2 separate regions of the Homo sapiens genome follow, and region 1 is linked to region 2. The links come from fine-mapping of genetic effects on gene expression. A gene starts in region 2. The other region holds a variant in brackets. All regions are shown on one strand. Distances are between the middles of the regions.

Region 1 (2,500 bases), 23 kb before region 2:
ACCTGGCAACCAGCCCATGCACCTGTGAATCCGTGCTATCATCTGGTTAGCTATCAGTGTACAAATTGATCTATCTATTTGATCTCCCTTCCCCTCTGGGAGAGCTGGTGAGGTCTGAGCCAGTCAACCTAGCCCCTCTCCTTCTCTTTACCACCGGAATCCTCAGGAGCCCAGCCAGAAACCATCCTTCTAGGAATGAGAGCAGGAGGTGGCTACGCCTCCAGGGACAAAAGGGGCATGGAGGGCAGAAGAGGAGAGGCTGTCAATTCCAGCAGGGGAGCTGCTGCTCCCTGAGTCCTGGGTTGGCTCTAATACCTTGTGGGGTCAGGGAGCCCATGTCCCGTGCTGATGTTATTTCCCCACCAGGTCCGGGCTGTCTCCAACCAGATTGTGCGCTTCCCCAATGAGAGACTGACCTCCGACCGTGGCCGAGCCCTCATGTTCATGCAGTGGGGCCAGTTCATTGACCATGACCTGGACTTCTCCCCGGAGTCCCCGGCCAGAGTGGCCTTCACTGCAGGCGTTGACTGTGAGAGGACCTGCGCCCAGCTGCCCCCCTGCTTTCCCATCAAGGTACCTACCCTCAGCCAATCTCCCATGCCCTTGTGTGGCCTCCCCCAAAGGCAAGGTGCTGGGGGTGGGGATCTGGAAGACTGGAGCACCATCCTTAAGGAGCTGCCTGTGGAGCTAGGGTATGAGACAGAGACACAAGAAACACAGCTGAGCAGAGACCCCGCGCCGTGTGTGTTTGAGAGGTGGGGGTAGGGCAATCTGCCAGGAGGCTCAGGTCAGGCTTCATGGAGTGGGAAGCCCTTGACACATGCCTTGACCCATGGGTCTGAATCCAACAGGGGAAGCCTCTGGGCCCCTGCTTTTGGCAACCTAAGGGCCTCTTAGCTCTTGCCCTTCTCTCCTTCCCAGAGTAGTCCAAGGGTCCTGCGGCTCTTGCCAGCTTCTTGGGCTTGGGCTGTAAGTAGGGTCCTAACCTTCAGGCTAGAAGCCAAGGACAGTGTGGGGCACTAGGGGAGGAAAGATAGAATCCAGGGAGCAGAGTCTCTGCTAGGAACATAGGGTTGACACACGTGCACACACACACTCTCTCACACACACACACGTGCACACACACGCTCCCTCTCACACACACATGTACACACACAGTCACCCTTAATAGGTGGGGCCACATTCATGAGGGATGACATGTGAGGGCCTCTGGATGGCCTCTCCCTGTTGCAACCTTATCTATTCCTCA[A/G]TCCCTGGCTTAGGGGCACCTCCTCTGGGGAGCCTTCTCAGATCTTCCTATTACACTTTTAACATATGTCCTCCCCTCCCCTCTCCTCTCTCTCCTTCCTTCCTTCTTCCTTCCTCTTTCTTTCTTTCTTCTTTCTTTCCTTTCCTTCCTTCCTTCCCTTCCTTCCTTCATTTCCTTCCTTCCTTTCTTTCTTTCTTTTTCTTTCTTTTTCTTTCTTCCGTCCTTTCTTTCTTTATCTTTCCTTCTTTCTTTCTTCTTTATTATTATTATTATTGTTTTGAGACAGAATCTCACTCTGTTGTCCAGACTGGAGTACAGAGGGGCAATCTCAGCTCACTGCAACCTCTGCCTCCTGGGTTCAAGCAGTTCTCATGCCTCAGCCTCCCGAGTAGCTGGGATTACAGGCATGTGCCAACAAGCCTGGCTAATTTTTGTATTTTTAGTAGAGATTGGGTTTCACCATGTTGACAAGGCTGATCTCAAACTTCTGGCCTCATGTAATCCACCTGCCTCGGCCTCCCAAAGTGCTAGGATTATAGGCGTGAGCCACCACACCTGGCCCACATATGGCTTTTCTATCAAGCACAGCAGATGCCACTTCAACTTAGTTTCTTAACTCTATGTGTGTGTGTCTTTTTCCACTGAACTGCCAGCTTCCTGCAACCTTTCCTGTGTTTTTTTAACCTTCATAATCTCCAAAGCAGCAAGCAAGAAAGGGGCTTAGAAAAGGTCTGTCGAATTGAACAGAATTAAAGAAGCTCAGGCCTAAGAGTCAAGAGAACTAAGTTCTAATCCCACCTTTCCTGCTAACTGGTTGTCACTTCCCCTCTCTGAGGCTGTTTTCCTTGCTGTAAAATGAGGATCGAGATTGTTTCAAAAGCCTCATTCATTCCTAACCTTTTGAGACTCTATGAAACAAAATGTTAAGGACACTCAGACTGACGGGGTGAGCAGCATGAGCCTGGGTGAGTCAAGGAGGGCTTCCTGGAGGAAGGGAGTTTTAAGCAAGGTTTTGAGGAGGTGGAAGATGACGGAGAGGAGTGAGTCTGCTATTGAGGGGGCCCCATGTCACTGTCTCCTCTTCCATCTCAGATCCCACCCAATGACCCCCGCATCAAGAACCAGCGTGACTGCATCCCTTTCTTCCGCTCGGCACCCTCATGCCCCCAAAACAAGAACAGAGTCCGCAACCAGATCAACGCGCTCACCTCCTTTGTGGACGCCAGCATGGTGTATGGCAGTGAGGTCTCC
Region 2 (3,016 bases):
AGCTAGTTGGGAGGCTGAGGCAGGAGGATGGCTTGAGCCTGGGAGACCAAGGTTTACAGTGAGCTATGATCATACCACTGCACTCCAGCCTGAGCAGAAGAATGAGATTCTGTCTCAAAACAAAACGAAAACAAAAACAAAGAAAACAAATCTAATCTAATACACTCTTGGGTATGCCTTTTTCAGAGACACGTTTCACAACCTGTGAGCCCACACTCTTGCCCAGGAACAGCTCTGAACAGAAAGAGAAACAATAAAAGCAAACAGACTAGTGACCTGACAACAACCACTCTGTCCTCTCCTCCTCATTCTTTTGGTTTCCCAGATAAGGAAAACCACAAGAACACAGTTGATCTATACATGCACATCATATGCAGATTTTGCAAGCAGTCTCCAGTTTAAAAATTGTTTTTAAAAGTGTTTATATGTGTATTTAGGGTTTGGGGCACGTTTTCTCTTTTAAAAATGCCACAAATAGGACGGGCGCGGTGGCTCACGCCTGTAATCCCAGCACTTTGGGAGGCCAAGGCGGGCGGATCACGAGGTCAGGAGATCGAGACAATCCTGGCTAACACGGTGAAACCCCGCCTCTACTGAAAATACAAAAAATTAGCCGGGCGTGGTGGCGGGCGCCTGTAGTCCCAGCTACTCGGGAGGCTGAGGCAGGAGAATCGCGTGAACCCGGGAGGCGGAGCTTGCAGTGAGCGGAGATAGCGACACTGCACTTCAGCCTGGGGGAAAGAGCAAGACTCCGTCTCAAAAAAAAAAAAAAAAAAAAAAAAAAAAAAAAAGCCACAAATAGAATGTAGGTTGCCGGGCAACTCTATAACATATCAGAAGTATAGTATTTGTTATCTCACTACATTTGGCCACAATTCTGATTAGTATCATAATTAGTATTAGATGGCACATCACCACCGTAACACCCACTGGCAGTTGGCTGAGGCCTAAAAGTGGCCAAGTCTATGAGGTCCTTCCCGAGCTCGGCAGCAGGCTGATAATGAAGAAAGTTGCTTGATGTGATTCTTTGCAGGTGGACTCTGTCAAGAAAAGCCCAAAATATTCGTTACCAGACACGCAACCAGGAGATGAACACAAAGCAAGGATGGGGGAAACAAAACAGAGGAGGTAGGGTTGCCAAGGTGTGCTGGGTGCAGACAACGGAGAGGAGGTGGGTGGGTGCGCCGTCCTATGGGGAAGAATGAAGGGGAGAGGGTGTACTGGGGGCACAGGGCTTTGAGAAACTGGGAGCAACAAAGACGTGAATGGACTTGGGTAGGTCTGTAAGGGGTTCTTAGAGGCTGTGAGTGGATGGGGGTACGGATAGTGAAAGAAGTGGGGAGCCCGGAGAAGTGGTCGGGATTGTAAGCAGAAAGTGGGGACCTCAGAACACCGAGCTCAGGTTGGAATGATCTAAGGACACAAAAGCATGGGGCCTCGGGGCTGGGGCGGTGCGACTACCGGAGGCGCAAGTTGCGCACGGGGTCCCGGGAGCGATACACTGCCTCCCCGGTGTCAGTGCTCCAGACGGTCTCCGCCATGACAGCTGCGACGCGCCGCGACTGCGCCGGAAAGCGCGCCGCTCTGTTTTCCTGGCAACGGAGACGCTGGATCGGGAGGCGACGGAGGTGCTGCGCGCGCAACCCGCCGTTCCCGTCACGGCGCCACGGTCGCAGTTGGCCACACAGTGCAAGTGCAGCCCAAGCCGAACGCCCAAGAGGGCTCCGGGGTCCTACCGATCACCGCTTACCATGTATGCGATAAAAGCTCACCGAAAGCGGGACCTCGTGCGCTGTGCAAATGAGGAAACTGGCACAGCCATCAGCCCACTTCATATAGACAGATAGATGCAGAAATGATGACGGGGACCAGGTGGCCTGAGTCTTCGCCCTCTACCTTTTCCACCATGCCACACTGCCTTCCACCCAACGCGTGAAAACTTTGGCCTGAAAATCGGGTGATGTGACTGTAAGAAATGCACCCATTATTCCCAAAGGAGTCAGGGAAGGTGATGGCCCTTAGCCAGACAAGAAAATATATTCTTGGAAGACAAAAAAAGTGTCAGAAGATTTATTAGTCTTTGTGTTGATATTCACTGAGCAAAGAAAGAAAAAACAAGGAAGTCAACAGTAAGGAAGGAAACGATGTTATTATTGAACTGATTCTTACCTTGTGTATGTTAGTTTTGGATCATTAAGCCACTTTGTTACTGCACTGGCTTCCTGAAAAGCCAAAAAAGTGACATTCACAAGTCATGCTTCGTTGTACTAGCAAAGGAAGGACATGCTGTAACCTCACGTCTGGCGTCCCGGCACTTTGGGAATGTCAACATTTATCAGCCTTGTTCACATCTAGTCCTCCTCCAACAAAGTAAGCAATTGTCCCCTGAACTCGGGAATCTCATGCCAGTTTGATGATTTGGCATTGGAAGCTCTGGGTGCCATAGCCACTAGTTGTGTAACACCGACTCACCATAAATAGCACCATTTATTTAGGATCTAGTGCAGCTTGAGCACTTTTGTTTGCATTGTCCCAAATCCTTGTAGAAGCCTCTCAAAAAGGTACTTTTATTCACTTTAAAAATGAAGTTCGTGAAGGCCAGGGTTTAAAGGACTTGCTAGCTTGCAAGTGGTAAAAGTACTGGGATTCTAGCCCAAGTTCTTCTGTCTTTTGAAGCCTAACCACCTTCCAGTTTGCCTCACAGCCTCTCACCTACCAATTTATTCCATAAACGCACACATTTCCAACCTGGGAAATAATAATTTTTTTTTTTTTTTTTTTGAGACGGAGTCTCGCTCTGTCGCCCAGGCTGGAGTGCAGTGGCGGGATCTCGGCTCACTGCAAGCTCCGCCTCCCGGGTTCACGCCATTCTCCTGCCTCAGCCTCCCAAGTAGCCGGGACTACAGGCGCCCGCCACTACGCCCGGCTAATTTTTTGTATTTTTAGTAGAGACGGGGTTTCACCGTTTTAGCCGGGATGGTCTCGATCTCCTGACCTCGTGATCCGCCCGCCTCGG

Direction of the effects. Alleles are on the strand shown, and positions count from the first base shown. SD is a standard deviation of normalised expression in the study named.
For the expression in breast of the gene that starts at base 1,566 in region 2, allele A in region 1 goes with a higher level than allele G (small effect, 0.13 SD a copy in GTEx).

What was found. PIP is the estimated chance that this variant, and not a neighbour inherited with it, causes the effect.
Region 1: its variant is fine-mapped to the expression of MKS1 in breast (GTEx, PIP 0.94).

The regions. Positions count from the first base shown.
Region 1 is chr17:58,194,598-58,197,097 of GRCh38, forward strand. EPX (eosinophil peroxidase) reads left to right here. Exons shown (of 13, transcript NM_000502.6): 6 at 367-573; 7 at 2,342-2,500. Among named protein-coding and RNA genes, the nearest start is that of EPX, 3.1 kb to the left of the region's middle. The variant A/G (reference allele first, on the strand shown) is at 1,250.
Region 2 is chr17:58,217,690-58,220,705 of GRCh38, forward strand. It overlaps MKS1 (MKS transition zone complex subunit 1), which reads right to left and starts at 1,566. Exons shown (of 18, transcript NM_017777.4): 1 at 1,462-1,566; 2 at 931-1,040. The coding sequence starts at 1,541. LOC105371841 (a long non-coding RNA gene) reads left to right here and starts at 1,625. Exons shown (of 2, transcript XR_934884.4): 1 at 1,625-2,370. RefSeq lists an enhancer at 1,394-1,673.